4 separate regions of the Homo sapiens genome follow, and regions 1, 2 and 3 are each linked to region 4. The links come from fine-mapping of genetic effects on gene expression. A gene starts in region 4. Each other region holds a variant in brackets. All regions are shown on one strand. Distances are between the middles of the regions.

Evidence for each region.
Region 1: its variant is fine-mapped to the expression of SCARB2 in subcutaneous fat (FUSION, PIP 0.95).
Region 2: its variant is fine-mapped to the expression of SCARB2 in lymphoblastoid cells (TwinsUK, PIP 0.95).
Region 3: its variant is fine-mapped to the expression of SCARB2 in unexposed skin (GTEx, PIP 0.91).

What each region holds. Positions count from the first base shown.
Region 1 is chr4:76,185,911-76,194,017 of GRCh38, forward strand. All of the region lies in intron 2 of SCARB2 (scavenger receptor class B member 2), which reads right to left. Among named protein-coding and RNA genes, the nearest start is that of SCARB2, 24 kb to the right of the region's middle. The variant C/G (reference allele first, on the strand shown) is at 3,248.
Region 2 is chr4:76,388,878-76,396,984 of GRCh38, forward strand. CCDC158 (coiled-coil domain containing 158) reads right to left here. Exons shown (of 25, transcript NM_001394954.1): 4 at 7,392-7,609. Among named protein-coding and RNA genes, the nearest start is that of CCDC158, 28 kb to the right of the region's middle. The variant A/T (reference allele first, on the strand shown) is at 5,058.
Region 3 is chr4:76,230,871-76,238,977 of GRCh38, forward strand. LOC105377286 (a long non-coding RNA gene) reads right to left here. Exons shown (of 3, transcript XR_938897.4): 3 at 7,836-8,107. It also overlaps a transcript of SCARB2 not described here and a transcript of FAM47E not described here. Among named protein-coding and RNA genes, the nearest start is that of FAM47E, 17 kb to the right of the region's middle. RefSeq lists an enhancer at 3,026-3,902. The variant C/T (reference allele first, on the strand shown) is at 3,568.
Region 4 is chr4:76,210,670-76,218,776 of GRCh38, forward strand. It overlaps SCARB2 (scavenger receptor class B member 2), which reads right to left and starts at 3,155. Exons shown (of 12, transcript NM_005506.4): 1 at 2,758-3,155. The coding sequence starts at 2,874. It also overlaps a transcript of FAM47E not described here. RefSeq lists silencers at 2,556-2,960, 2,874-3,493.

The DNA of each region.
Region 1 (8,107 bases), 25 kb before region 4:
TAACGTACTCACCTTGTAGGGTTGTTGTGAGAATGAAATCCACATAAATCCAGTTACAACACTACCTGGCACACCTGCTGCTTAGGAGGGATTAGCTACTGATACCATGTGCAACGGCTTGTGCTAAGCTCTTGAGATGGTGTGACATTAAGTCCTGGTTCTGGTCCTCCAAGAATCCACAGTAGAGCATGGGAGACTGCCTTCAGAGGCCACCTCCTTCACAGTAAACGCACTGTGGGCATACAGAGGAGGGAGGGATGGCAACTGGAAGGGGACTCCTGCAAAAGACACTTTTGCTTGATTCTGGAAAGAGTGGGCTTCTGCAGGTGGGAGGGTGAAGGGGGTGTTCCAACAGAGGCAGCGGTGGGGCGAAGGTGGGCAGCAAGCATGAAAGCATTCCCATGTGGGGAGTGAGAAAGCTGTGGTCCTGGAGGAGGAGGACACGCTTTAAAAGACCATCACAGATCCAGGCGAGGCTGGGGTGATGAACACATCAACGTGAAAGGAGTACTGAAGTCCTAGGGTGACCACAGAGAAGAGGGAAAGCAAGGGGAGCCAGCCAAAGGCACAGGCTGAGGAGCCTCTACCCTTAACTTTGAGTACGCTGCCCGCTCAGGTAACTGAAGGCAGCAACCTGTAGATACAAAGCAGGATACTGAGAAGAAGTGGTAAGAGCAGGGTCGGGAGAAGACTCACCCGCTTGTTGACAGTGTGCAAGAAACAGTTTCACTCCTTAAGATGGAAATATCTCCCTGGTCTCCCTGTCCCCAGGCAGTGACCCATAGGCTCACGTAGGCAATTCACCTAATGTACCACGTGCATTTAAAACTCACACATACCTGGTCACAACCTTTTGTGCATGATAAGATGGTGTGAGAGATCTTTTTCTATTTTTTTTTACTTCTGAGCAGTTTAAGGATTTTTTTTTTCAAAATCTGTTTCTATTTTGGCAAAACAAATACAGTTTTAGCTACCAATCTAAAAACACTATCAGAGAAAAGCGAGGCAAGTTTAGAAAAAAGGAGAAAGCATTCTCCTATAATAATGGAAACAATGATCACGGTGTTCCTAAATTTTTTGTTGTCTCTTTATGTTAAAAAAATTTCTTATACAGCTTGGCTCAGACACGGTTAAAGAACTAAAGGGTTAATAGGACAGAATTAGACAGTATAAACAAAATTCCTGCCTTTGCTAAATTGCAAGGAAGACACTTAGATCCTGAAGAAATTAAATGTGGAAAAACAGAACTATAAGAAAATCGACTTGAACATCAAACCATTGAAGGGAGTAAGACTTTTAAAGCTCAGACCTGATAGAAATGTTGAAAAAGAATAGACTTGACTACAACACATTTTAAAAATTGACAAGGTAAACAATGGAAAAGCAGTTGCCCCAAATGAAACATAAAAGGTTCACAGAGTGCCATGAACACTCCAGAACCCAGATAAGCAAATGGACAAAGGACAAGAACTAAAAGTGTGGAAACACAACTGGCTGGCAAACATGAGGAGAACATTCAACCCACGAGGTAACCAGAGGAGAAAATGAAAACGGATCTACATGTTCAGGAAAGGAACAGTTAAGTGTAGTAATACATTTACTCTATTAAATATAATCATCATTAAAATTCATTTGTATGAAGACCAAAATATAACATTGAAAAATCCTATGCTATAACATTAGGTGAATAAAAAATATGTATATTTTGTATATGTACATGCATATGTACATAGTATGATAACCATCTAAAACTCATCCATGGAAAAATGGCCAAGAAGATATCCACTAAAATGTTAGTTAGCATTGGTTATTTTTGAGACAGTGAAGCCATGGATTAGTAGTTTTTGTTCAAAACTTTACTGCATTTTCAAGTTGATCTTTAGTGATTATATATATGGAACACATATATATGTGTAATTTTTATAATATAAAATATAGTCTACACTCTTAAAGATAATGCTGTATATATTATATATGTTGATTATATTTGAAAATCCAGTATTACTTGTTATCAATGAATAATAAAATAACTTAAGATCTAGCCCTTACATCTTTTTAAATAATACAAGCCTAAAATAGAAATGAATAATCCAAACAGCAAAACTAAGAAACCCCAAAATAAGATATTTCACGGGATACTGTAAATTTAGTAAATACTTCTTAGAAATACGCAAATTAATTGGAAGTGCCCTTAGACAAATTGTTTTCTTTTTTAATTCTTGAAATGTTAAATGGTAGGCAAAATAGAAAAAGGTATCTGACAAGATAAAAAATAAACCTCAAAAAGGCTGCAGAAGCCATGGGATACCACAACTTTGATACAAATTTTATACAAATATGTCCCTGAGCAAAAGGATCATGAGGCCAATGAGCCTTGTATTCACAGACCCATTCCAGGGCTGCTCAATCTGCAGCTTTACAAAAATGTAAATAATACACTTCATTCCTTAAACCAGACTGACTGGCTGTTATCAACATTTGGAATGCCCATCATCTTTTTCCAAAAACATTACTATTCTGAACTCCCCAGTATGTGAAAGGTTTGGGAAATGTGCCACTGTAAATCCTGTGTCAGATGAGTTAGGCCCTCCACAGTCTTGCTTGGCCCTTCCCCATCTCAGAGGTTTCCCACCACCACACCAATCTGTACTAACTGGCGAAAGGGGCTACATGCCCTCCCCTTCCTTTGCCCCAGGCCCCCTGGCATACAATTGATGGAGTCAGCTGACTCAGTTGGGAGAAAACACTGGAGCAGAAGCTTCTGGAATGTTCTGTCTTATCCAGCCTAAACAATAGCATCATAAAGCCACAAGTGACAGAAATCAAATCCAGTGAATGACCGCAAAAGGCACATGTAGAGACTAACAGGCCCCATAGAAGGTTTGGACAGCTCCCTAAAAAGCCATGTTTTTCTACAAATCCCAGATCTCACGACCCACTCAGCCCTGTAAGGAGCTCTTAGCAGCCTGCACTGCACATATGCATATTCCTAACAAAGCCATTCATTTTCAGGGCCTGATTCCCCTTTCTTGAACCTATATTTGGGTTTCCTGAACTAAGTCCTATGGTTCCGGCTATTAGGTGGGTGCAAAGTAACTGCGTTTTTTGTCATTACTTTTAAATACTTTTTAATAATTGTGTCCTATAGTGTTAGTTTTTCCATGTGTCCTATGAATTTAAACCACAGTTGAAGATGTTTAATTTACATATTCCACAAATATTCATTAAATAGTAGACAGTCAGAGAC[C/G]AAAGGACTTGGTCACTGCACCCCATGGAGCTTCCAGTACATTGGGAAGAAAGACAGATACCTAAGCCAATTATTAAAATGCAATTAGTCACTGTCATAATGGATGCACATATTTATTAGTCTGTTCTCATGCTGCTAATAAGGACATACCTGAGACTGAGTCATTTATAAAGGAAAGAGGTTTAATTGACTCACAGCTCAGCATGGCTGGGGAGGCCTCAGGAAACTTACAGTCATGGCAGAAGGGGACACAAACACGTCCTTTTTCACGTGGCAGCAGCAAGGAGAAGTGCCCAGCAAAAGGGTTTTTGTTTGTCTGTTGTTGTTGTTGTTGTTGTTGTTTGAGACAAAGTCTTGCTCGGTCGCCCAGGCTGGCATTCGGTGGCGTGATCTCAGCTCACTGCAACCTCTGCCTCCGGGGTTCAAGTGATTCTCCTGCCTTAGCCGGTGTGTGCCACCACACCCAGCTAATTTTTTTTTCTTTTTGTATTTTTAGTAGAGACAGGGTTTCATTATGTTGGCCACATTGGTCTTAAACTCCTGACCTCAAGTGATCTGCCTACCTTGACTTCCCAAAGCACTGGGAATATAGGCATCAGCCACCACACCCAACCAAAAGGGTTTTTTAAAAAGTCCCTTATAAAACCATCAGATCTCGTGAGAACTAACTCAGTATCAAGAGAACAGCATGAGGGTAGCTGCCCCCGTGATTAAATTACCCCCCTGGGTCCCTCCCATGACATGTGGGGATTATGGAAACTACAATTCAAGCTGAGATTTGGCTGGTGGGGACACAACCAAACCACATCAACATACCACTTTACAAGTGCTATAAAGTGGTATACTTGACACTTTTTTTTTTTTTTTTGAGATGGGGGTCTTACCCTGTTACCCAGGCTGGAGTGCAGTGGTGCAATCTCAGCTCACTGCAACCTCCACCTCCCAGGTTCAAGCGATGCTCCCACCTCAGCCTCCCACGTAGCTGGGGCCACAGGCACATGCCACCACGCCTGGCTAATTTTTTGTATTTTTGTTAAAGACGGAGTTTTGCTATGTTGCCCAGCCTAGTCTCGAACTCCTAAGCTCAAGTGATCTGCCCACCTCAACCCCCCAAAATGCTGGGATTATAGGTGTGAGCCACCGTGCCCAGTCTACTTGACATTTTAAATAAGATGTAACAGGGAGAGTATCCGAAGTCAGGCAAGTCTCAGGAGGAGACAGCATTTGCACTAAGTAAGATGTGAAGGTCAAGAGAGGTAGCGCTGAGGAATTCATTCTTGACTGAAGCAACAGCATGAATACTGGCAAGGCAGTGTGTCTGGGGAGCTTATAAATCATGGGAGTGGCCAAGCATGGTGGCTCACGCCTGTAGTCCCAGCACTTTGGGAGGCCAAGGCGGGTGGATCACTTGAGACCAGGAGTTCGAGACCAGCCTGGTCAACATGGTGAAACCTTGTCTCTACTAAAAATACAAAAAATTAGCCAGGCGTGGTGGCCGTGCCTGTAATCCCAGCTACGGGGGAGGCTGAGGCAGAAGAATCACTTGAACCTGGGAGACAAAGGTTGCAGTGAGCCAAGATCGCGCCACTGCACTCCAGCCTGGGAGACAGAATGAGACTCTGTCTCAAAAACAAACAAACAAACAAACAAACAAACAAAAAATCATGGGAGTATGGTTGGAATTATGCTGTCTAATAGGGTAGCCACTAGACACATGTGGCTATTGCACATTCAAAATGTGGCTAGTCTGAAATGAAATGTTCTATAAGTGTAAAATGCACACAGGATTTCAAAGACAGTATAAAAAAAGATTGTAAAGTATCTCATTAATAATTCTAAATATTGCTAACATGTTGGAATGACACTATTTTGGATAGTTTGCAGAGTCTCCATCACATCTTAAGGAATTTCATTTAAAAATAACAACAACAACAAACAATGGGACACTTAGATACTGATCCTGGTTCAACTTCTAATTATTGCCAGTGGGAGAGCTTAAAATACAAACTTTCTCTACCCAGTACACAGTGTTTCATCAGGCATAGAACACATACAAAATGGCTTTTTAAAATGAGGACCCAAGTATTTTCTTAGATTTCTTCATATAGCAACAGGGTTCATCTTTATAATTCTACATATTGACTTGTACAGACTAAAACAATTAATCTACGAAGACCAATAATATAGTTTTGGTGTCCCCTCAAAATCTCATGTTGAAATATGATCCCCAATGTTGTAGGTGGGGCCTGGTAGGTGTTTGGGTCATGGGAAGGATTCCTCATGGCTTAGTGCTGTCCTCGAGATAGTGAGTTCTCACGAGATCTGGCTGTTGTAAAGTGTGGCACCTCTCCCCTCTCTTGCTCCTGCTCTGGCCATGTGACATGCCTGCTCCCCCTCTCTTACTTCCACCATGATTATAAGTTTCCTGAGGCCTCCCCAGAAGCCAAGCAGATGCCAGCATCATGCTTCCTGTAGAACCTGTGGAACTATAGGCCAATTAAACCTCTTTTTTAAGTAAATTACCCAGTCTCAGGTCTCTCCCTCTTTCTTTTCTTTCTTCTCTCTCTTTCTCTCTCTCTCCCCTCCCTCCCTCCCTCCCTCCCTGTCTTTCTTTCTTTCTTCTTTTTTTTTGAGACAGGGCCTTGCTCTGTCACCCAGGCTGGAGTATAGTGGCATGTTCTCGGCTCACTGCAACCTCTGCCTCCCAGGTTCAAGCAATTCTCCTGCCTTAGCCTCCTGACTAGCTGGGAATACAGGTGGGCACCACCATGCCAGGCTAATCTTTGTATGTTTAGTAGAGGTGGGGTTTTGCTGTGTTAGCCAGACTGGTCCCAAACTCCTGACCTCAAGTGATCCACCCACCTTGGCCTCCCAAAGTGCTAGGATTACAGGTATGAGCCACCATGCCCAGGAAGGTTATTTCTTTATAGCAATGTAAGAACAACCTAATTTAGAAAATTGGTACTGAGAGTCAAATATTGCTATAAAGATAGCTGGAAAATGTGGAAGCAGCTTTGAAACTGGGTAATGGGCAGAGAAGGGAAGAGTTTGGAGGGCTCAGAAGAAGACAAGAAGATGAGGGAAAGTTTGCAATGTCTTAAAGACTGATTAAATGATCGTGACCAAATTGCTGACAGTGACATGGACAGTGAAGTTCAGGCTGAAAAGGTCTCAGATGGAAATGAGGAACTTATTGGGACTGGAGCAAAGTTCACATGTGTTATGCCTTAGCAAAGATCTTGGCTGCATTGTGTTCACACCCCAGGGATCTGTGGAAGTTTGAACTTGAGAGTGATGATTTAGGATATCTGGCAGAGATTTCTAGGCAGCAAAGCATTCAAGATGTCGCCTGGCTGCTTCTAACAGCCTACACTCAGATGTGGGAGTAAAAAAATGACTTAAAGTTGGACCTTATTTTTAAAAGGGAAGCAGAACATAGAGGTTTGGAAAATTTGCAACCTGGCCATGTGGCAGAGAAAGAAAAGCATTTCCGCAGTCTGGGCAACATAGGGAGACTCTGTCTCAAAAAAAAAAAAAGTTAAAAATTAGCCAGGCATGGTGGCACTTGCCTGTAGTCCTAGATACTTGGGAGGCTGAGGCAGGGGGAACCCTTGAGCCCAGGAGGTCAAGGCTGCAGTGAGCCATGATCATGCCACCGCACTCTAGCCTGGCAACAGAGACCCTGTCTCAAAAACAAAACAAAACAAAATATTTTTGTGGGGAGATAAATTCAAGCAGGCTGTAGAGCAACCATTGCTAAAACGATTTGCATAACTAAAAAGAAGCCAAGTGCTGAGAGTCAAGACAATGGGTAAAAGGCCTTGAAAACATTTCAGAGATCTCTGAGACAGCCCCTTCCATCACAGGCCCTGAGACCTAAGAGGACTGAGTGGTTTCAGGGACCAGGCCAGGGGCACTACTTCCCTGTGCTGTTTCCCACATCCCAGCCACTCCAGCTCCAGACATGGCTCAAAGGGGCTCAGGTACAGTTCAGGCCACTCCTCTGGAGGGTGCAAGCCATAAGCTTTGGCAGCTTCCATGTGATGTTAAGCCTGCAGGAACACAGAGTGCAAGAGTGAAGGAAGCTTGGCATCCTCCACCTAGATTTCAGATGATGTATGAGAAAGCCTAAGTGCCCCAGCAGAAGCCTGCTCCAAGGGCAGAGCCCTCAAGAGAAACTCTACTAGGGCAGTGAGGAGGGGAAATGCGGAGCTGAAGGCTCCACAAAGAGTCCCCACTGAGGCACTGCCTAGTGGAGCTGTGGGAAGAAGGCCACCGTCCTTGAGACACCAGAATGGTAGAGCCACCATCAGCTTGCAATCTCAGCATAAAAAAGCTACTGAGGCGGAGCTGCCTAAGGCCTTGGGAGCCCACCCCTTGCACCAGTGTGCTCTGGATGTGAGACACGGAGTCAAAGAAGATGATTTTGGAGCTTTATGATTTAATAACTGCCCTGTTGGGTTTCAGACTTGCTTGGGGCCTGTAGCCCCTTTCTTATGGCCAATTTCTCCCTTCTCAAATGGGAATGTTTGCCCAATGCTGATACACCCATTGTATCTTGAAAGGAAATAACTTGTTTGATTTTACAGGCTTATAGGTAGAAGGAATTCATTTCTAGATGAGACCTGGGACTTAGGACTTTTGAGTTAATGCTGGAATGAGTTAAGACTTTGGGGGACTATTGAGAAGGGATGATTATATTTTAACATGTGAGAAGGACATGAAATTTGGAGGCCAGGGGTGGAATGATATAGTTTGGATGTCCCCTCCAAATCTCATGTTGAACTGTAATCTTCAGTGTTGGAGGTAGGGCCAGGTGGGAGCTGTTTGGGTCATAGGGGAGGATCCCTCAAGGTTTGG
Region 2 (8,107 bases), 180 kb after region 4:
TTCTTCCAGATCTTATCCAAGACCACCAAGGCAGTATCCCTATGAGTCTGCAAAAACCATAGCATTATTGGGCTTGGGGTTTTGAATACCTGGAAAGCCTTCCCGAGAAGAACAGGCACAAATAAGCTCAACTGTGAAGACTACCACAAATAACTAACTTCAATGCCCAGACACCAAAGTACATCTACAAGCATCAACACCATCCAGGAAAACATGACCTCACTAAATGAACTAAGTAAGGTACCAGGGACCAATTATGAAAAAACAGAGATATATGACTTTTCAGACAGATAATTCAAAATATCTGTTTTGAGGAAATTCAAGGAAATTAAAGACAACTCAGAGAAAGAATTCAGAATTCTATCAGATAAATTTAACAAAGAGATTAAAATAATTAGAAAGAATCAAGCAGAAATATTAGAATTGAAAAATGCAATTGCTGTATTGAAGAATGCATCAGATTCTCTTAATATCAGAAATGATCAAGCAGAAGAAAGAATTAGTGAGAAGACAGGGTATTTGAAAATATACAGTCAGAGGAAACAAAAGAAAAAAGAAAAGAAAACAATGAAGCACACCTAAAGCTCTAGAAAATAGCCTCAAAAGGGCAAATCTAAGTTACTGGCCTTAAAAGGGAGTTAGAGAAGAAGATAGGGGTAGAAAGTTTATTCAAAGGGAAAATATCAGAGAACTTCCCAAACCTAGAGAAAAATACCAACATTCAACTACAAGAAGGTTACAGAACATCAGCAGATTTAACTCAAAGAAGACTATCTCAAGGCAATTAATAATCAAACTCCCAAAGGCCAAGGATAAAGGATCCTGAAAGCAGCAAGAGAAAAGAAACAAATAACATACAATGGAGCTCCAATACATCTGGCAGCAGGCTTTTCAGTGGAAACCTTACAGGCCAGGAGAGAGTGGCATGACATATTTAAAGTGCTGAAAGAAAAAAACCATCTACTGTAGAATAGTATATCTGGTGAAAATATCCTTCAAACATGAAGGAAAAATAAACACTTTTCTAGAAAACAAAAGATGAGGAATTTCATCAACACCAGACCAGACCCATCCTACAAGAAATGCTAAAGGGAGTTCTTCATTCTGAAAGAGAAGGATATTAATAAGCAAGAATAAATCATCCAAAGGTACAAAACTCATTGGTAATAGTAAGCACACAGAACAATATAACACTGTAATTGTGGTGTGTAAACTTCTCTTAAGTAGAAAGGCTAAATGATAAACCAATCAAAAGTAATAATAACTTTTCAAGCCATAGATAGTACAATAAGATTCAAAGAGAAACAACTAAAAGTTAAATAGTGGGGGCACAAAGTCAAAGTGTAGAGTTTGTATTAGTTTGGTTTTCGTACATTTGTTTGTTTATGCAATCAGTGTTAAACTGTCATCACTTTTTAAGTGATGGTTTTAAGATAATGGTTTATAAGAGAGTATTGCAAGCCTCATGGTAACCTCAAAGGTAAAAAAACATACAACAGATACGCAGAAAATAAAAGCAAGAAATCAAAGCATGGTAGTGGGTTATCAGAACTTATTAACATTAGTGTCACTAGAGTTGGTATAAAACCAACTGCTAAATTTGACTGGCTTAAAAATAAAGAAATCAAAGCATACCACCAGAGAAAAATCACCTTCACTAGGAGGAATACAGGAAGGAAAAAAAGAAGGAAGTGAAGACCACAAAACAACCAGAAAACAAATAACAAAAATGGCAGGAGTAAGTCCTTAGTCATCAATAACAACATTGAACATAAATGGACTAAATTGTCTAATCAAAAGACATAGAGTGGTTGAATGGATTAAAAAACAAGACTCAATGATCTGTTGCCAACAAGAAACACACTACACCTACAAAGACACACATAGCCTGAAAATAAAGGGATGGAAAAAGATATTCCATGCCAATGGAAACCAAAAAAGAGCAGATGTAGCTATACTTATATCAGACAAAATAGATTTAAAGACAAAAACCATAAGAAGAGACAAAGAAGTCACAATATAATGATAAATGGGTCAATTCAGTAAGAGGATGTAACAATTTAAAATACCTATGGAGCCATGACTGCAGCACCCAGATATATAAAGCAAATATTATCAGAAATAAAAGAGAGATAAGCCTCAATACAACAATAGCTAGAGACATCAACACCCCACTTTCAGGACTGGATAGATCATTCAGACAGAAAATCAACAAAGAAACATAAAACCTAATCTGTACTATAGACCAAATGGAGCCAATAGATATTTACAGAACATTTCATCCAAAGGCTGAAGAATACACAGCCTTGTATACACACAGGAATAGACACAGGAATGTTCTGGGCAGAATACATTCCTCAGCACATGGATGATTCTCAAGGAGAGACTATACATTAGGTCATAAAACAAGTCTTAAAACATTCAAGAAAACCTGAAATAATATCAACCATCTTCTCTGACAACAATGGAATAAAACTACAAATCAATAACAAGGGGAATTTTGGAAACCATACAAATACACAGAAATTAAACAATATGCTCCTAAATGACCAGTGAGTCAATGAAGAAATTAAGAAGGACATTTAAAATTGTATTGAAACATATGATAATGGAAACACAACATCCCAAAACCTATGGTATACAGTGAAAGCAGTACAAAGAGGGAAATATATAGCTATTAAGTGCCTACTTCAAAAAAGAAGAAAAACTGCAAATAAACAATTTAAATGATGTATTTTAAAGAACTAGAAAAGCAAGAGCAAACTGAACCCAAAATTAGTACAAGAAAAGAAATAATAAAGATCAGAGCAGAAATAAAATGAAAAAAATACAAAAGATCAATGAAACAGAATGTTGGTTTTTTGAGAAGATAAACAAAATTGACAAACCTTTAGCAAGACTAAGAAAAAAAGAGAGAAGACCCAAATAAATAAAATCAGAGACAAAAAAAGGATACATTACAACTGATACTGCATAAATTCAAAGGATAATTTGTGGCTACTATGAGTGATTACATGCCAATGAACTGGAAACATCTAGAAGAAAAGGACAAATTCCTAGACACATTCAACTTACCAGGATTGAACCCTGAAGAAATCTAAAACCTGAACAAGTCCCAGTAAAGAAAAGCCCAGGACCTGATGGCTTCACTGCTGAATACCAAACATTTAAAGAAGTAACACCAATTATACTCAACTGTTCCAAAAACATAGAGGAAGAAGAACTTCTTCCAAACTCATTCTATGATGGCAGTTATTACCCTGATACCAAAACCAGACAAAGACACATCAAAAAAAGAAAACTACAGGTCAGTATCTCTGATGAATACTGATGCAGAAATCCTTAACAAAATACTAGCAAGCTGAATTCAGCAATACATTAAAAAGATCATATATCATGACTAAGTGGGATTTATCCCTGGGATGCAAGGATGGTTAAACATATGTAAATCAATCAATGTGATACATCATATCAACAGAATGAAAAACAAAAACCATATGATTATTTCAATTGAGGCTGAAAAAGCATTTGATAAAGTTAAACATCTTTTCAGGACAAAACTCAAAAAAAATGGGTATAGAATAGAAAATAATGAAGCACACTTACAAGATCAACATAATAAAAGTCATATATGACAGAACCACAGCTAGTATCATACTGAAGGGAGAAAAATTGAAAGCCTTTCCTGTAAGATCTGGAACATGACAAAGATACCCACTTTCACCATTGTTATTCAACATAGTACTGGAAGTCCTAGCTTGAGCAATCACATAGAGAAAGAAAGAAAGGACATCCAAATTGGAATGGAAGAAGTCAAAATATCCTTGTTTCCAGATGATATAATCTTATATTTGGAAAAACCTAAAGACTCCACCAAAAAAAATGTTAGAACTAATAAGCAAATTCAGTCAAGTTGCAGGATACAAAGTTAACATATAAAAATCAATAGCATTTCTATATGCCAACAGTGAGCAATCTGAAAAAGAAATCAAAAAAGTAATCCCATTACAAGTTCCACAAATAAAATGAAATACTAGGAATTAACCAAAGAAGTGAAAGACCTCAACAATGAAAACTATAAAATGCTGATGAAAGAAATGGAAGAGGACACTAAAAATCAGAAAGATATCCCATGTTCATTGATTAGAAAAATCAATACTGTTAAAATGTCCATACAATCCAAAGCAATCTACAGATTCAATGCAATCCCTATAAAAATACTAATGACATTCTTCACAGAAATAGAAAAAACAATCTTAAAATTCATATGGAATCACAAAAGACACAGAATGGCCAAAGCTATCCTCAACAAAAAGAATAAAACTGGGGGAATCACATTACCTGACTTCAAATTACACTACAGAGCTACAGTAACCAGAACAGCATGGTACTGGCATAAAAACAAACACATAGAACAATAGAATAGAATAGAGAACCCAGAAATGAATCCACTCACATACAGTGAATTCATTTTCAACAAAGGTGCCAAGAACATATATTAGGGAAAAGACAGTCTTTTCAATAAATGGTACTGGGAAAACTGGATATCCATATGCAGAGGAATGAAACTAGATCCCTATCTCTCACCATATTTAAAAATTAAATCAAAATGGGTTAAAGACTTATATCTAAGACCTCAAACTATGAAACTCTATGAGAAAACATTGGGGTCAACTTCTCAGGCACTGATCTGGGCAAAAATTTCTCGAGTAATACCCTACATGCACAAGCAACCAATGCAAAAATGGACAAATGGGATCACAAGTTAGAAAGCTTCTACACAACAAAGGAAACAATCAACAAAGTGAAGAGAAAACCCACAGAATGGGAAGAAATACTTGCAAACTACTCATTTGACAAGGGATTAATTACCAGAATATATAAGGAGCTCAAACAACTCTATAGGAAAAAATCTAGTAATCTGATTAAAAATAGGCAAATGATTTGAATAGACATTTCTCAAAAGAAGAAATACAAATGGCATATAGGCATATGAGAAAGTGCTCAACATCACTGATCATTAGAGAAATGCAAATCTGAACTACAATGAGATATCA[A/T]CTCACCCCAGTTAAAATGGTTTTTATCCAAAAGTTAGGCAATAACGAATGCTGGCAAGGATATGGAGAAAAAGGAACCCTTGTACACTATTGGTGGGAATGTGAATTAGTACAGCCACTATAAAGAACAGTTTGGAGGTCTCTCAAAAAACTAAAAATAGAGCTACCGTATGATCCAGCAATCCCACTGTTGGGTATATACTCCCCAAAAAGGAAATCAATATACCAAAGAGGTATCTGCACTCCCATGTTTGTTGCAGACTGTTCACAATAGCCAAGATTTGGAAGCAACCTAAGTGTCTATCCACAGATGAATGGATATAGAAAATGTGGTACTTATAAACAGTGGAGTACTGTTTGCCATAATAAAGAATGACATACTGTCATTTGCAACAACATGGATGGAACTGGAGGTCATTATGTTAAGTGAAATAAGCCAGGCACAGAAAGGCAGACATCACATGTTCTTGCTTATTTGTGGGATCTAAAAATCAAAACAATTGAACTCATGGAGATAGAGAGTAGAGGGATGGTTACCAGAGGGTGGGAAGGGTAGTGGGGGAGTGAAGGAGAAGTGGGGATGGTTAATGGGTACAAAAAAAATACAACGAATAAGACCTAGTATTTGATAGCACAACAGGGTGACTATAGTCAATAATAATTTAATTGTACATTTTCAAATAACTAAAAGAATATAATTGGATTGTTTGTAACATGAAGTATAAATGCTTGAGAGGATGGAAACCCAATTTTTCATTATGTGATTTTTTTACACATTGCATGCCTGTACCAAAATAGCTCATGTACTCCATAAATATATATACCTTTTTGTTTAATTAAAAAAAAAGAAAGAAGATAGAAAACAGTGATTCCTGGAAACCATGGATCCAACCTGGAAAGTAGTGGCAGGAGTCTTTGGAAAAGAGTTATACAAGATACCTAAGAGAAACTAATCTAGACTGAGCAAAAGGTCAGAAGACACTTGGAGTGTCCTGGGTCAAAGGAGGATATAGAAAATCTATATGATATGTTTTTTTCTAATAAGGATATGTAAAGGCAAATAGTGTAAGGAAAAAGGCAATTAGGAACCCCAGTAAAAACAAAAACCTACACAAGAAGGGAAATTTACTGATTTAACACTTATTTATTGAAGGCCAATTAAGTGTCATATACTCTGTTAGGGGATAAACATAGAAAACAAATTAAGACACTGTTTCTTCTCCTCATTAGTGCCTCTGTGCTTCGTTTGTCTATATATACAACTTCATTAGTGTATTTATCATAGGTAATGCCACTGTTTATATGACAAGCTCCCCTCCCAGACTATGAATTCCTTGTAAGTCCTACCTTATTCATTTTTGTATCCCTGTGCATACTGGGGTACATAATTTTCAACACTTAATAAAATTGTAGATTTTTTTTTCCTAAAAGTGCTCACACAATCTGATGAGGTAGAACAATGTGGTAATGAGTAAAATTAGATGTACTAAATACTGCAATAAATGTGCACAAATGGCAGTAACTGTACAGAGGAGAGCACACCTAATGTCATCTAGAGGAAAGGCTTCAGAGAAGAAAATGCATGGGCTGAGTCTTGGTGCATAATAAGAGTTTGCCAGGCAGACAAGGTAGAGAAGAGAAAATGGCCTGGGCAAAGGCATGCAGGTCTGGAATAGCGCAGTATATCTAGGGAAGAGCAAGTGGCCTGATACTACCAGAATAGGTACCAATGGAGAATGGGTAGCATATGAGGCTAAAATGTACCAGGGAGAGGTTAGAGCATGAAGAGCTTTGTATGTGGCAGTAATGAGTTTGACTTTTAGACTGTTAACTACTGGGACCAAATATGCAATTGTAAAGCCAGTTTGATTCTACGTAATGTCCACTTGAAATTTTTAGCAAATAACTTCTAGATGCTATTTAGCTATAATGTATACACACATATCTAAAAACCTACCCTCTACCATTGCTTTGTAAAGAGAAATCAGGTATCATGATAGCAGGACAGCAGGTCTATGCCAATTATTAACTATAAATGCAGACAAATGCTACTTATTATAATTTTGAGTTATTCAAGTTTCATTAAAATTTATATCATGAAACCAAGATGTTTTGAATAATTATTTAAAAAAGAAAAATAAATATGTAGACTTTTCATTAGCCCAATTTTAATACCGAAAATAGAAGGCACAGGTCAAATTAACAAATTTAACCAATAAACCCATTTGTTAGTTTTTTCTTCCAGGAAGTTGTATAACTGGCTTTACAACTACATACTGGATCTCACTGTTGTCCCCCAAATAGCATCAGGTGCTAGAAGAGAAGGCAACTCACTTCATTTAGTCTTCTCTGTAAATCTTTGACTTGATGTGAATATTCTTCCAAAACACGTTCAAAGTGTTCCTTTCCAGGAGATGGGATGATTTTTCTAGGAGAATCAAGTTCCACTTCATATTTAGGGAAAAAAGGAACCTGTGTCAAAGTCCCAGCTGAAGATGTGTTTTCAATTATTGTACCACGAATAGATGACACAAAAAATGAACTTGAAGAACCTAAATATTAAAGAATTCATTAATTAACTTTTCGTTTTTTTTGAGAAGGAGTTTCACTGTTATTGCCCAGGCTGGAGTGCAATGGCGCGATCTTGCTCACTGCAACCTCTGCCTCCCGGGTTCAAGCAATTCTCCTGCCTCAGCCTCCTGAGTAGCTGGGATTACAGGAGCGTGCCACCATGCCGGGCTAATTTTTTGTATTTTTAGTAGAAACGGGGTTTCACCATGTTAGCCATGGTGAAACCATGGTCTGGTCTCGTACTCCTGACCTCCTGACCTCAGGTGAGCTGCCCACCTCGGCCTCCCAAAGTGCTGGGATTACAGGCATGAGCCACCACGCCTGGCCCATTAATTAACTTTTTCATAAAATAATTTTGTGCACACTTTATGCTAACTGATTCCCTTATTGAACCCCGAAGAAGCTCAAGGTCTCAAGGGGAAAATACGCATGTGAAAGGATAAAGCAATTTTGGCCTTAAGCTGATGCTGTAGCAGGAT
Region 3 (8,107 bases), 20 kb after region 4:
CTTTATCCATCAAACAGGAAGCTTGGGCATGGCTTAATTGGCAGGAATCAGCCACGATCACCTGTGCTGTGCCTTTTAACCTCTGTTGTTGTCTACCTCTGGATCCCTTAGATCCAGTTTTCTTTCCTAGGGCTTTGACCCAAAGCTTGGAATTGAGTTTGGAACAAAAATGTGTCTCAGGGGAGTTGCATGGACTCCCTATCATAAGCTGCATGCTAAGGTGAAACCGTAGAACTGAGTCCTCCTCCAATAAGGGAGAGGAAAGGATGTCTTGTGACACACCCAGATGACTGATAGCTATAGTTATGCTTGCTAAGATTTGGGTGCATGATGCTTGGCTTTTGTTAGCTCCCTTGGTCTTATTTTCCCAAAGGAAATGTCCAAGTGATGGGCATCCTATTCATTCCCATCACCTGGCAGGGTTTTCAGGATAATTCCTCAGAATTAGAATGTTGATCCAGATTTTCACATTACCCATCCCTCTTGTTCTTTCTGAGCTGCAGCTGGAGACTGCCGGTTGGTTCACAGGAACAAGTAGGATTAGTCTTAAAATGTAGGTAAAAACTTAAAAACAACTAGTGAGTTTAGAATTTAATGACAAATATATGATAGGTTTTGAAACACGATTTCTCACTCGCCAGTCCTCATTTTTGTTAAAAACAAACAAACAAACAAATCATGACAGGACTGAGTTGTTTGCAAAATAGACTTTACATTTTTATACTTGGCCTGATTATTTGCATAAAGTACAGCAAGAATTATTATTTCCGCAAAGGCCTTTCGGATTGGCTTCGATGGAAGTTTGTTCCACAAGGAATCAGATAAGACCTTTTAAAGCTGAGCCCAGGCATGGGTTTATCCTCAAATACCTGTGAGTTTGGTGATCCTCTCCTCTTAAGGTTCCAAGATAAACTTGGAGTTCCTGGACCTGTTAAAAGTGGCATTCTTTACTGACCATAGGAACCCTGTGCAGGGACTGTGTAAACAAGGGTATGAGGCCAGTTTCCCCACTGGGATTTTATTGGCGCTGCAAGTCAAGATTGACTCCTTAAAGGAAAGCATACCCTTCCAGTCAAAGACTTGGTAAAGTAACCAGTTTTTCCAATTGTGTCCCGTTGCAAGAGAGAAGTGGATTCCTATTGCACTGATGTAAACAACTATATTGCCATAAGTTATGAATACTCACAGATAGTTTTCAAATTTTAGAGGAACCAGGCAGAGAGAAACAAACATGCTTCAAATTTTGGTTACAGAAGTATACCTTGCTTAATTATTAAAGGCCATAAATAGTTCAAAATAAGTTTCCTTGACTCTGAGAAACAAAACAAGGATGAGCAATATTCCAAGCAAAAGTCAAAAAGATTGCTTTAGTTTTCTGAGTTCAGTCCATTTAGTTAATTCTTGCTTTGGTTGATATTCGTGAACATTTCAGCTCTTCATGAGTCCTGTACATTTTCCTTTATTCCAATGTCACAATCTCCAAAGTTATCAGAAGCCTGTATTTGAGAGCACCTGTTACAGTTCTACGGCTTATTCTAAATCATCTCTTGAAAAGGATTAAAACAAGACAACAATTGTCTCTGAATAGCAAAAATGTCCAGGGTAGTTACACTTGGAAACACAATTGACAAAGGAGTTTGGTTTTCTCTGTGGTTTACAATAAGTTAACATAACAACCTTAATTATGATTGGTAGCATAACTTAGACATTAGAATTTTAGAAAGTCCCATACAGTTTTGGAACATGTATTAATATTACTCACAAAAATATAACCTAAACAAGATTGAACATCATTATGACAATTTCATTTACCTAGACATGTCAAATCATCTCGTTTGCCTCTCTTTTCTGGATGTTTCAGGGGCCCTCTGGACTATCTAAAAGCCAGGTATCAGAAAAGACAATTATGAAACTTAAGTTTGATTTTTGGAAGGCTGTTAAATATGTTTAAAACATTTGATATTATGAAATAGTGTTCCAGATTACTATAAACAATTTTGCCAAAATGATGACTCAGAAATTTTAAAGCAGCAAAAACCTTTAATAACCCTTTTGAATTTAGTTAACATGGTCACAGAGAACCTCTTCTGCAAGATTAATTTCCATAATTCTTGCACCAGTTGTTTGAACCTTCAGCTTTTCCTATCTAACTCAAAACAATCCTTTAACCCTAGGCAAAAATTTACATTTCCATGCTTCCTTATAACCTTTTACTAAAAAACCACATTTTACCGTTCTTACACACCTTGCATGTAAATCTATTTCCAGTAGTCTCAATTACATGTTGTAATGGTAACTCCTAGAATTTTTAACGTTAATTTAAAACCTGGTAAGTTGTTCTAATTGTGTGCTAACTGCAGCCAAGTTTTGCCTTCTTAATTAAGGGTGTGGTTAGTTCCATGTGTCCCCAGGCCTTACCAGCTGTGAAGCCAGCAAGTCATATTTCTCAAAACCCAAAAAGCAGTTTGTAACCTTAAAACATTTAGCAAACCTTGCATCTGACCTGCATTATGCAGCCCACCTATTTACATTTTAATGACATCTGTTTTTACCAATAATCTTTAAGGTTGCTTTTATTTCTCAAAGATTAAAGTCGCGTGAACTGAAAGGCATCACAGCTTTTATCTTCCCTTAAAAAAATATTAGATCTGAGCACTTGTCTTTCTTTAGGCCAAATTAATTAGAGCTCTTTTTACAGACATCACACACACACACGCACACACACACACACACATATGTAACTGACAAGCATATAACACACACATATAACAGCCAGGCAGGAGAAAACCCAGTCCCCGGGTGGGGTTCTTTAAGAGACAGGGCTAGGAAAACATCCAGATACCAACCACAGCAGGCTCATCCCCTAAGGCAGGATTGCTGAACAAAGCCCTATCAAGCAGTTACAGGCAGTGCCCCCAATATGTAAAACCAGATGAAGGCTTCATTTCAGAACCAAAACTTTGCAGATAATACAAACAGAGATAGTTGGTTGGGGGGGGCTTGGTTTAGTAAAGCATCTTCTAAAAGGAAAAGAACTTTAAAAGTTACTACTGATGGGGTGAAGAAGAGGAAAGAAAAAAAGTTTAAAAAATGCCTGGGGAAGAACCTCTTATTCTTATTCAAGTGGTTCCTTCACCAGGGAGACAAGTTTAATTGCTGCGGGTCAGAGATGGCCTTTCAGGCCCAGGGTGTGTGGCAGAAAACACCAGCCAGCTGCCCGCGGCACCTTGGGCCATGTGTCTCAGCCCAGGCAGGGAGGGGAGGGTGGAGGGGAGCCGCTGCTCACTGGTCCATCCCGAAAAAGGAAAGAAAAGGCCATGAAAAGGCTGGGGAGCAATGCGGGGGTGTGGGCATGATTTCCCCCACTCTCAGAAGTCTGAGGATGAAAAGGCTTAGGAGCAACAGTGAGAGGTTTTGAGTCATTTCACTCACCGCTTCTTGAGCCCCATGTTGGGGGTCAAAAATGTTGCAGGACTTTTCCTTTGTGAAGCTAAAGATGGCATTCTTTGTCCCATGGCCACAAAAATTCAGGCTTGCAGACAATTTGAATGGTAAGACAGAATTGTA[C/T]TGGGTGAAAAGGAAGAAAAGGAAGAAACAGGGACTCTTGCTAGGCCAGAGTCCCTGCTAGAATGCTTCCTGCTTTACGGTTGGAATCCTAGGTTCCACACAGGAAGTGAGGCGGCCAGGCTCCTCCCCGCTGCAAACAGCGTGAACTTCCCGAGACTCCACCCCAGGGCGCAGGTTGGTTGGAGTTTTTCCGGGGACCCCCTCCCACCTGGCTGTCTCACCAGCACTTTGGCAGGCCAAGTTGAGAGGATCACTTAAAGCCAGGAATTCAAGACCTGATCGGGCAATATAGTGACACCTTTATCTCTATGGAAGGAAAAAAAATGTTAGCCGGCCATGGCGGTGTGTTCCTGTAGTTCTAGGTACTCAAGACACCCAGGTGGGAAGAGAAGTTGAGCCCAGGAGTTTGAGGCTGCAGTGATGCAGCCAGCTAGGATTGTGCCACTGCATTCTAGCCTGGGCAATAGAGCAAGACTCTGTCTCTCAAAAAAAATTTTTCTTTGCCTGATTTAAATAGTAAAATTAAAGTAAGATAGTAGGGACAGGGTGGGGACCAGCAGCCATCCTCCCTCCTGAAAAATAAACATAAAAATAAATTGGCCGGTCGCGGTGGCTCACACCTGTAATCCCAGCACTCTGGGAGGCCGAGGCGGGCAGATCACGAGGTCAGGAGATAGAGACCATCATGGCTAACACGGTGAAAACCCGTCCCTACTAAAAAATACAAAAAATTAGCCGGGCGTGGTGGCGGGCTTCTGTAGTCCCAGGTACTCGGGAGACTGAGGCAGGAGAATGGCGTGACCCCGGGAGGCGGAGCTTGCAGTGAGCCGAGATCGCACCGCTGCACTCCAGCCTGGACGATAGAGCGAGACTCCGTCTCAAAAAATAAATAAATAAATAAAATAGAAATAAGTTTCATTTTGGGAAATATATTTTAAAATATAATTCTAAGCTACCTGTCCTCACTAAAATTAAGGTGGGGATTAGAAGGAGTTAGGAAGAGAAGCCTCCTATGCCAGGGACAGCAGTAGGCACTCTCCATATTTTACCTCCTTTACAACTGTGGGAGGTAGGAATTATTATCCCCATTTTACATTTGAAAAAAAACCTGGAAAAATCTCAGATAATAATTAACTTGTCCAAGATCATGAAGCTAGGAACTAAGCACAGATAGGGATTCCCAGTTAAGGGCTCAAGAGAGATCAACCTGTTAAGAGAAGAGAAGGTGTTTTTCATTCTCATATTACCAACTTAAGACCATATGCTGCTGTTTCACAAAGGAGACTCACAAATTCATTGACTAGTTCTAGATCGATTCCCCATTTCAGAAATCCTCTGCATTGTAACGCTAATATTTACTGGGAGCTTAACTACATGCTAGGCATGTTCTAAGCAGTTTATATGTGATAATCAATTTAATCCTCTCACAATCTGATGAGGTAAGTGCTATTATTATCATCATTTTAGCAGATGGGACACCAAGGCACAGAGAAGTTAGATAACTTTCCCAAGGTTGCATAGCTAGTAAACAGTAGAGCCAGGATTCGTTCCTGGCAGACTGGTGCCAATGTTATGCTCTTACCTGTCTTTTATAACTGTGGCACCAGAGCAAAGTATAACAACTGGTTTGAATTTTTTACATATCAAAAGTGGCTTGGAGAGATTAAAGAACATTTTTTGTGTTTTTTTTTAGTTGTCCCCACCCAACAGAAACCTGTCAAACTGGTTATTCAGGTTTAAGTCACTTTATAGTTCTCACAAGAATGTTAAAGGAAAATAATGAAAACAAACAGATGTTAAATGATTCACTCCAGTATAAGCTCAATTATCTAGGTTCCTTTGCTTTTGTAGCAATCAAGATGTCTTTGGACTTTGACCAAGTCTGAAACTTTTTCATATTGTATTTATTTCAAATAATGAGATGATCAAAGGTGATCTGTGAAAAACACAGGATAGAAACTGCAGCACCCTGATAGAACCCACATCTGGGTTGTTGATGAAAAGAGTCAAACTCTGTAGAATATTTGAAGAGATTTATTCTGAGCCAAATATGAGTGACCGTGGCCTATAACCCAGCCCTCAGGAGATCCTGAGAACATGTGCCCAAGGTGGTTGGGGTGCAGCTTAGAACATTTTAGGGAGACATTTACACATTAGAGAGACATGAGACTTCAATCAAATACATTTAAGAAATACATTGGTTTGGTCCAGAAAGGTAAGACAACTGAAAGTGGTGGGGTAGGGTGGTGGGGGGTGGGGTGGGGGTCAGGGGCTTCTTATAGGTGGGTTTAAAAATTTTCTGGTTGACAATTGGTTGAATTTAAAGACCTGGGATCAGCAGAAAGGAAATGTCTGGGTTAAGACAAAGGATTGTGGAGACTAAAGTTCTTATTTGCAGAGGAAGCCTTCAGGTAGTAGGCTTCAGAGAGAATAGGTTGTAAAATATGTTTCTTTTCTTTCTTTTTTTTTTTTTTTTGAGATAGAGTCTCACTGTGTCACCCAGGCTGGAGTGCAGTGGCATGATCTCGGCTCACTGCAAGCTCCGTCTCCCAGGTTCATGCCATTCTCCTGCCTCAGCCTCCTGAGTAGCTGGGACTACAGGCGCCTGTCACCACGCCCGGCTAATTTTTTGTATTTTTAGTAGAGACGAGGTTTCACCGTGTTAGGCAGGATGGTCTCGATCTCCTGACCTCGTGATCCACCCGCCCCGGCCTCCCAAAGTGCTGGGCTTACAGGTGTGAGCCACCGCGCCTGGCCATAAAATGTTTCTTATCAGATTTAAAGTCTGTGTTGATGTTAATGCTGGAAAGGTATAATGAGGTATGCCCAACCCCACTTCCCATCATGCCTCAGGTTTAATTTTAAAAGTGCCCTGGCTGAGAAAGTCCATTCAGATGGTTGAGGGGCCTTAGAGTTTTTTTTTTTTTGTTTGTTTGTTTGTTTTTTTTTTGGTTTACAAGGTAAAAGTTGGCTTGAGATAGTATGAAAAACAGTGAAGGTATATAGGACTCAGAGTTAATTTTAGTCCTTTTGATGTCTGTCTGTCCCAATCCAGCTCCATGTATCATTAGTATCACAGAGCATAAAGTACAGTCATTCTGAGGACAAACCAAGGAGTTTGGACCCTGTGTTAGTCCATTCTCACGTTGCTATAAAGAAATAACTGAGACTGGGTAATTTCTAAAGAAAAGAGGTTTAATGGCTCATGGTTCCACAGGCTGCACAGGAAGCATGATGCTGGCATCTGCTTAGCTTCTGGGGAGGCCTCAGGAAACTCACAGTCATGACAGAAGGTGAAGGGGGAGCAGGCACATCACATGGCCAGAGCAGGAGCAAGAGAGAGGAAGGAGAGAAGTGATACACACTTTTAAACAACTAGATCTCACAAGAACTCACTCACTATAACAAGAACTGCACCAAGGGGCTGGGGCTAAATCATTCCTGAGAAATCCACCCCCGTGATCCAATCACCTCCCATCAGGCCCCACCTCCAACACAGGGGATTACAATTCAACATGAGATTTGGGTGGGGACATTTGTCCAAACTATATCAGACCCATAGTTGAGTTTGCAGTGTAGCCCTGTAATGATATAGAGAGGAGAAGGATTGGGAAATAAGGGAAGATAGGTGAGCAGGCCAGACCCGGGAGGCTTTGAATACCAGCTTGAAGAATCTGAATTTATTCTGTGTCTAATGGGGAGCCATGATCCATAAGGAAGGCTATGGAATTATCAGGTCTCTTCCTGCCAAGACTCTAAATATTCCTTTGTATCACGGTTGACCCAGGTCAGGCTGAATGTTCCCAGGTTACTTTGGGTTAGCCTGGCGTTTCCAAGTCTGGTTCACAGTCTTCAGGAGCTAGGAACGGGGTTTTCTCTACCTCCGCTTCCCTGTTGAATTTTGATCTAGCTCAGGGAAACTGTTTGTCCCTTTCTAAAAATATGAGTGTGTAGTTTCCAAGACAAATGGGCAACAACTGCTCTGTGGGCTGGCTGAAGGATCCTGCCAGGGTGCTGGTGAGTTTGTTTCCTCATACTACATTTATCTTTAGCACAGGAACTAGCAGTAGGCAGAATTCCTAGCTCAGCCCAGTGATCATCAAGAAGTAAGCAGGTAAAGGTAACTATGAGTCCAACAAGGAGCGGACTTAAAGGGGGCAATCAAATGAAACTATTGCACCTGCTTAGGTTCAGATGCCCAAGATAATCTAGGAGAGATGTGATGGGAAGGAGAATAGGAGGGTGCTTAGTCATGTTAGGTACAGAGACAACATTTAAAAAAACTTTATTGTTTATTTACCACAATTTTTAATTGTGGTAAAACATACATAACACAAAATTTACTATCTTAATCATTTTTAAGTGTACAGTAGAGTGGCATTAAGTACAATCATATTGTTGTGCTGCCATCACCACTACCCATCTCCAGAAGTCTTTCCATCTTGCAAAACTGTATTCATTAAGCAATAACTCCCATTCTTCCCTCTGCTCAGCCCCAGGCAACCACCATTTGACTACTCTAAGTACCTCATATAGGTGG
Region 4 (8,107 bases):
CAGGCCTTGCCCAATACGAGGCAGTCACCACTGAGGCCAAAAATGAAACAAAATTGTCTTGGTTCCTTCCACGATATTCACTGGCCAAAATTAAAAGTCTCTCTTCAGTTACCTCTGGTCACTGCAGGGTTCAAGGACAATTATCATTTGAGACAACTTTTTGGATAGGAATTCTCTTACTAAGCTTCCCACACCTACTCATTTGAATTTCATCCCTTTTCCCTCTTCCCTTTTTGACATAGACAAGTCGGGGCATAGACAATCTTCAAATGAAAAAACAAAGAACTGGAAATATCAGAGTAGATTATATTATAACTACATTAGAATCAAGTTATGAATGAATTCTCCCATAGTAATACTAGTGGCAATAAAGATGACTGCCACATATTGATTACCTATTCTGTGCCTGATACTATGCTAAGTGCTTTATACTTGGTCCTACAATAATACACATGCAGAGACAAATCCAGGTTTTGTGGGTCCTGAAGCTTATACAATTTGAAGGGTCCTTCTTAAGAAAAAAGAAAATTTGGGATATAGAATGAGGTACAGGGCTTCGCAAGGGTCTGTGCAAGTGAGAGACCCAAAGCTTAACTTTGCGAGTTTCATGGTAAATGCATCACTGTGCCCAAGTTAGCTAACAGCTCATATCCCCAGTTTTACAAGCAATGAAATTGAGGACCAAGTAAGTTATTTGACGTAAGTCATAAAGCTTATACTGGCAAGGATAGGATTTGAACATATGGAATCTGACTCCAAATCTCACGTATTTTCTTTGTGTGGCTTCTAATAAAAATAAAGTTGCTATCACCTATTAAGCACTAACTATATCCCAGAAAGATCACACCTTAAGGTTATAAGAATTATTTGACAAAGCAGATGTGATCGTTAGTCCTTATTATCCCTATTTACAGATGGGGAAAACATGAATCAAGTAAGATTAAACAGCCCACGGTCACCGAGCTGGGACATAGTGGAAGCTAGGTTTCATGCCCAGGAGTGTAACATCCTCAATCTTTCCCACTGTCCCATGCTACCTACCACCCTACAGGTAATCCAGGAAAAAGCAGAATAGCGATGTGTGACTTACCTCTAATGACAACAGTATTTCCACACCTGCCCACTGAAACTAGCCCTGTCCTTTAGTTTCATACAATACACCGTGCAGTCCTCCTTAGCTGGGATTGAGCAGCTCTGAAAGTCCACTTCCCTGTACTATTACTTATCAGAACAGAGTCCATTCCTCATGGAGAAAAACACTTGGAAATATCAACACAAACTCAGGCCCCAGCCAAGTTGCCTTACAGCCACCCCCTCACCCAGAGAAATGGAGACACACAGAGAATCTAAGGGCTGGCTATATGGGAACCACGGGGAAGATCACTCATCCTATAGGGCTCCTTGAAACAGCCTTTCAAGGCCATATAAGAAAACTCACATATTTACTATAATTGGATTGCTTTACTCTAGTCACCCAAAGCAAGAGTTTACATCCTCAAACACAGCTCACCATGGATTTGGACATGGACAGGAGTGGAGAAAGGATTCAGTTTCTTTTTTCCTTGAACATGATTGCTCAAAGGAAACTGACCCTCGAGACGCTCAGACAGTGGGCCTTGTCTTCCCTTGGCAATGTGAACTTTAAAAATTACATTATGCTTTGCCATGGTGCTTTTTGAAAAACTGCCTTTAACTGCCAGATTTCAGGTACTCACTTAATTACTTTTGGAAACTCAGTTAAAGGAAGATATCCATTGCCACCTGGAATAAAATAGCTTTACTGACTGGAGAGTGCAGTGATTCAAAGTAGACTAGGCCTGGGCTTTTTTATCTGGCCGCAGCAAGTGCAGACCAGTGGGAGAAATGAAGCGTGCAGTTATGGATGCTAACAAGAAAGGCTGCTGCTCCAGTGATTATTTTTCTTTTTTAAGGAAAAAATGATCCCAGTAATTCTCTTTTGTTCCTCTTTTGACACAGCTTGGTGGATGTGGGGGAAAGGGCAGATGAAATGACCAGTGAAATCAAAAGATGAAGTCTTCTTAAAGGACTGGCTCTCCAGCCCAATCATCTAGAGGAAGAGACAAGTTCAGATTCTTGTAGGGTATCTAAATGCATCTGTGCCTGAAAATTATGGCCGTTTGAGAAAAACAAGAATTCATGGTGAGACAAAGCAACACAGACTGTTGGTACAAGATACAAAGCCACTAAGTCAGCGTTCAGCAAAGACTGATGGATGAATTGTCACCCAGCCTAAAGGACTGGCCCAGCTACCAACTGCCCCTGCCCAGCCCAAGAGGGCAAGAACACAATAGACCGCACACCCACGTCTCATCCCCAGGCGCACACCACTTCAAAGGCTACAGCAAGCAGACAACATAACCTGCCTCTTCTGCGGTGTCTTTCATTCAGTTCTGTTTCTTCATGAAGTGGGAAGGAAACAAGTTTGGGCCCACCTGAGATTGGGGTGTAGACGGAAGGAGTGGGGAGAGATGCAAACGACAGAACACAACCGAAGGCCTTTTTAAAAGTCAGGATCCATAGCCTTACTTATCACTGTAAAGGGAACAGAGTCGGCTCCATCCTTCCTCATCCTTCTTTAACCCTCGCCTACCAAGCCCTGGAAGACAGGGACGCAAGAAGAGCTCTAGCGCGGAGGGTCTGCCTGAGTGCTGGTCTTTCCCATACAAGATGTAGCAGCAGGGATGGGAGGGTGAGCTGGACGACTCCACAACACACACACAGCCCGCCCCGCCTCACCTTCTCGATACTCTGGTCTACAGCCTTCTGGAAGACCCGGGCCACCAGCAGCGTGACGCTGGTCACCAGCAGGAGCAGGGACAACGTCCCCGCCGTGTAGAAGCAGCATCGGCCCATTCTGTGCGCCGCTCACGGGCCGGGCCGGGCCGCACCCGCCAGGGATCCAACTGCAAGGAGGGAGGAGCCGCCGCAGAGGCGTCGAAGACCCGGGACCCTTCGGCGCCACGCCCACGCCCTCCCGGCGCACGGTTCGTGCGCGCAGCTCTGGGCTCCGCGGCCTGGCGAGCGCGGCCCCGGGTGCACCGGGCGGATGGGGCCGCGGAGGGACGGGCCCGGACTCGGTTTCGGTTTCCTTCGCCGGGCAGCCGTGGCGCCCGCCTAGCGCAGCTCGGGAGAGTGCAGGGAGCGCGCAGGGACGTGACGTTCGCGGGCCGGGCTCGCCGCAACCCCGCGAGGCAACCGCCGGCGACTGCGCGGGGAGGCGGGCGGGGGCGGAGGCCGCAGTCATGTGCCCTGCGGCGGCGGCAGTGATTCGGCCCGCGCCCTCCCCGGCCGGTCCCCGGTGGCCCTGAGTGGCTGCGGCGCCTGAGCCAGGCCCGGCCTGGCCGCTCCCAGCGCCCTGCACCGCAGGCCCAGCGCTCGCCCCACCGAAATTGCCGAACCTGGTTCACACACTCATTTACTCATTCCGCAGATAGGTCTGAGGGCCTCCCATGGGCCACGCGCTGGGGATTCAAGGTGGCTGGGACATTCCCCTGCTCTAGAGGCGCTCGCAAGTTAGCGGGGACACCGTTACCGCAATTACAACACAATGTAGCAAGTGCTTCTACCAGGTGCCTGCTGAGATCATGCCAGCAAGCATGTTCTGCCTGGATGACCTAGGGCCCCACATTGAACTGGGGCCTGGGGGATGCATAAGTTTGTCACGTAAGGGGCATGTGCAAGAATGGAAGATGTGCAAAAAAGGGAGGAGGAGGCATTTCACGGAGAAGGAAACGGTGAGCAAAGGCATTGGGGGTGAAAGAGCAAAACCTGTAGGAAGCAAGAAGGAAGTTCCTTTTGACTGTAGGCTCAGGTGTTCAGGGGGTGGAGTCGGAGGTGTTGAGGCCCCAAGAGGTCAGACTTTGAAGGGCTCTTGGTATCCTGTTAAAGATGTGGAAGTTGGGAAGGAGCTTAAAGCAGGCATCGCTGGTGTTCTTGCCTGCTTTGCTCACTGTGGTGTCCCAGACACCCAGGACCAAGACCTGCACACAGCCAGGACTCAAGAAGTGTTCGTTAAATGAGTGTTTCTTCTACGCCAGCCCTTTACTAGTTTCTTTGCACAGTTCTACTCATTTAATACCCTTGGCAGTCCTATGAATAGGAGGTTGTGTTTGTCCCAGTCCTCCAGAAACAGTCCCAGATGGGGGTACTATGCAAGAGAGTTTTGAGGGAAAACAGGGAGCTGGACCTGGGATGCAGGTGTGATCCTTGTGAAGGAAAGAGGCAAGCAAGGAAGGAAGGTTGGGTGGAAGGAAGCATTTGATATATATACAGTCCATGTATAAAAAGTTCAGCAAGGCCATTGGGGTGGGGAATCCTTTAGCCAAATGGGCTTGTCCCAGAAGTCTGGCATCTCCCAGAAAGAGGCCCGCCTTAGTATCCCTGCTGTGCTCAGTCATGAGCTGGGAGCAGCCTTAGGAAGCTGGCCTTTGCAGCAACCTAGGGATAAATATCAGGGTATGGATTTCAGCAGAGCTCAGCAGTTGAGGCGGAGCCATTGGTCAGTTATGCTATCTACACTGCAAGATCCAAGAAGTACATTTTCTTGGCAACTATAGTGTATTATCCTCATTTTACACTCAAGAACACTGGGGCTCTGAGTTAAGTAACCTAACAAGCTCAACTGGTTGCTGAGTGGTGGATCCTGCTTGAACCAGGATGTAGGGCTGGCTGTTGGCTTCCAAAACCCTCACTTTTTCTACTCTGCGCATTGCTGCATCCCGATCTGTCACTAATGAGAATCTGAGGACAGCAAATCAGTTAGGAGGCTTTGTTGAGGACTTGGTGAGATAGCATGATGGTTTAAAAATGGTGGCAAATTATTTGTTACTCCTTTCGTTGAGAGGTGGGGTCTATACTTTCTCGCTTTGAATTTGGGCAGGTTTTAGCAATTTGTTAAACCAATAGAATACAGTGGAAATGACCATATCCTGGAACTTCTGAAGCTAGATCATAAATGCCTTGCAACTTCTGCTGGGGCCTTTGCAAATTCTTGCTCTTGGAGCCTCAAGTCACCCCTAAGTTCAGCTACCCGGAGACTGCTGCAGAGAACATGGGAAAGACTGTGGGGAGAAGCCCTGAGTCTGTAGGAAGAGAAATGTCCCACCAGTCCCCAGCTGTCCCTAGCCTTTTGAGTCACAGGCCCTAGACATTACAGAGCAGAGGTGAGTGGTCCCTGCTGAGCCCTGCTCAAAATGCAAAATAAAGGATTGTTGTTGTTTAAGCCACTGAGTGTTGGTGTGGTAGGTTACTCAGTAGATAACTGGAGCAGATGGTAAGGGCAGAACTGAGGCTGGGACATTTTGTAGCTACCAAAGCTCTTCAAGCAGCAGCCCCAGAGGACCAGTCCTGTGTTCAAATAGAACCTGGTGGGGTCCTGAATGATTCAACTGTCCCCAGCCTGATGGGTGGGTGGTCTCCAGTCCTCAGGTGTCCACAATCGGCAGCCTTTCTCTTCCCCTAATCCTGCCTCTTCTCTGCTGTTAAGTTTCAGTTAGCTACATTAACTCTGCTCTGTGCCCCAGTTTGCTTAAGGAGCAATGCTAGCCCACTAACCCTCACATGTCCCCTACCTAGGCATTGGTTGAAGTCCTCCTGTCATCTATATGTCCTCTCCTTCCCTAACTAGAAAAAAAAATTTGGTAACTTGCCTGCCTAGGTACTTTGGCACTCAGAAGTTCATGCTCACACTGAACTTCCACCCCCTACTCTCTGACTGCTACAATCAGATTTTCTGTTTGCGGGCTCCATTCTGGAGGGCAAACTCCATAGGTACCCACTCCTCCCATCCCTGGACCACCAATCCCAGGGTACTCTTCCTTTTCATTGTTCATTGAGGTCCCTTCTTCTCTCTTGTCTGGGCCACCAGGACAGTAACAGACTGTGGGGATGGAGAGATGGAGACAAATTTGATAAATGTATCTTAGTGTGGGAGAGTTTCTAAACAAGGGTTTACAGCTCAAGTTGCCCTCAGTTTACCTGCTCTCTGAGGATCTCACTCTGTTTCCACTATGTCAGGCGGTTAGTAAGCCACTTCCCCTTTAAAACTCTGGACAAGCCGAATGAAAATCTCTTTCTTGGTTCTTCTTAACACAGCTGACCAGGCTAGCATTTTTAAATGTGTTAACATAAGACAGAACAAAAAGGACCTAATTACAGAAAATATAAACAGCTTTTAAGAAAATAATGTATGTTCCCAAAATAGCAGTCTGTGATCCCACAGTAATCTCTGTCTTATCACCGAGGCTGGCATAACTTTTTAGCAGCTGGCCTGGCTGTCTTTCTGTTCAGTTCCATCTTCTCTACCCACAGCTATGTTCAGAAGCTTTTGACACAAAGCCCCAAAATCCAGATTTAAGTTTCTCAATGCCCTTTGGGACTTCCTCCTCATTTCTGATCTATAGGACATGTCTGCACCGCTAATTGGCATTGTTAGTTTATTGCCACAGGATCATCTCACCCTATGAGAGACTTTGCCCTCTCATCCAGGGAGTAGCCCCTGCTTGCCAGCCACTAATAACCCTGAACACACTCTGGAGGGGCAGACAGCTTGGGAAGGGGTTACTGCTCCCAGAGTTTAGATGAGGAGGCTGATGCCAGGGCAGGGAGACAATCAGGACTCTTCCTGGTGACTTCTCTGCTATGGTTTGGATTTGTGTTCCCTCCAAATCTCATGTTGAAATTTGATCCCCAGTGTTGGAGGTGGGGCCTAATGGGAGGTGTTTGGGTCCTGAGGAGAGATTGTTCATGAATAGATTAATGCCTCCCTCAGGCATGAGTGAGTTGTCAGAGAGCGGGTTGTTGAAAAGAGCTGGCACCTCCTCCTTCTCTCTCTAGCTTCCTCTCTGCCCATGTGCCTCACACAGGTGTGCTCCCTTTCTGCCTTCCCAGGAGTGGAAGCAGCCTGAGGCCCTCATCCAATGCAGATGTCTGTGCCGTGCGTCTTGTCCAGCCTGCAGAACCATGAGCCAAATAAACCTCTTTTCACTACCCAATCTCAGGTATTGTTATAGCAACACAAACAGACAAGGGCGGAAAATGAGGAGACTGATGCTGTGGCAAGGAGATACGGTGATCTCTCTATACCTAAAATCAGAAGACTTTATCTGAGAAGAACAAGTACACTTAATGAATGATTGCTGGTGCCTGTTGAAATTATGCAATCATTCGGGACTTAGAAAAAGAGCTTTCTTCACAGACTCTAAGGGCTATCGAGGGGAAGCAAGAGGGCTCTTTGGGCTCTACCTTAAATTTAGAATGTTGATACTATACTCAAATGAGTTTAATGATGTAGTCATTGTATACTTTTATGTTCAAAGTGTTAATGTGTTAAATATAAACATTTAAAATACACCACAGGCCGGGCCAGGTGGCTCATGCCTGTAATCCCAGCATTTTGGGAAGCCAAGGCAGGAGAATCACTTGATCCCAGGAGTTTGAATGGAAATGGCCCTAGGCCTTGCCTACTTTGGGACAGGTCAGGCTCCAAGATACTTCTAAAAGTCTTGGCTTTCTTCTTATTGAAGGTGATCTATAAAATGTACCATCACACCCTAGTGATTTGACATATGTTATTCCTAAATGTTTGTGGGGCATCCTAAATCCTGAGCAATACAGCCTCCATAAGAAAAAATTACTCTCTCCTCCCTCCTCCCCTACCCATCATTCCAAAGTTCTTACATTACAGAACTGCTTTATGCAGATAGGCTTACATATCCCAGAGGAGAGCTCATATACCATTTATATTATATCACATGCACCTGTGCCAGGCCACAGGGACTCTCTGTGAAGTTACCCATGTCCCTGTCTACCGCCTCCTCCGATCAAGAAGACCTCATGGCTTCCTCATTATCATCTTTGCACCCCCAACTAGGGGAATCTTTTCCAGTTTGTTTTGGTTTGGTTTGGTTTTTATTTTGTTTGGGGTTATGGGAAAATGAGAATTCCCCTCTTCAAATTCTTATTTTCCTTTTTGTTCCCCTAATAATGCAGACTTATTGAAACACGGAACTAGGAGGAGATATCCTATTCACCTTTTTCTCTTCCCTTTCCTGAAAACACAAGCGTAGTGTTGTCTAACTAATAGAAT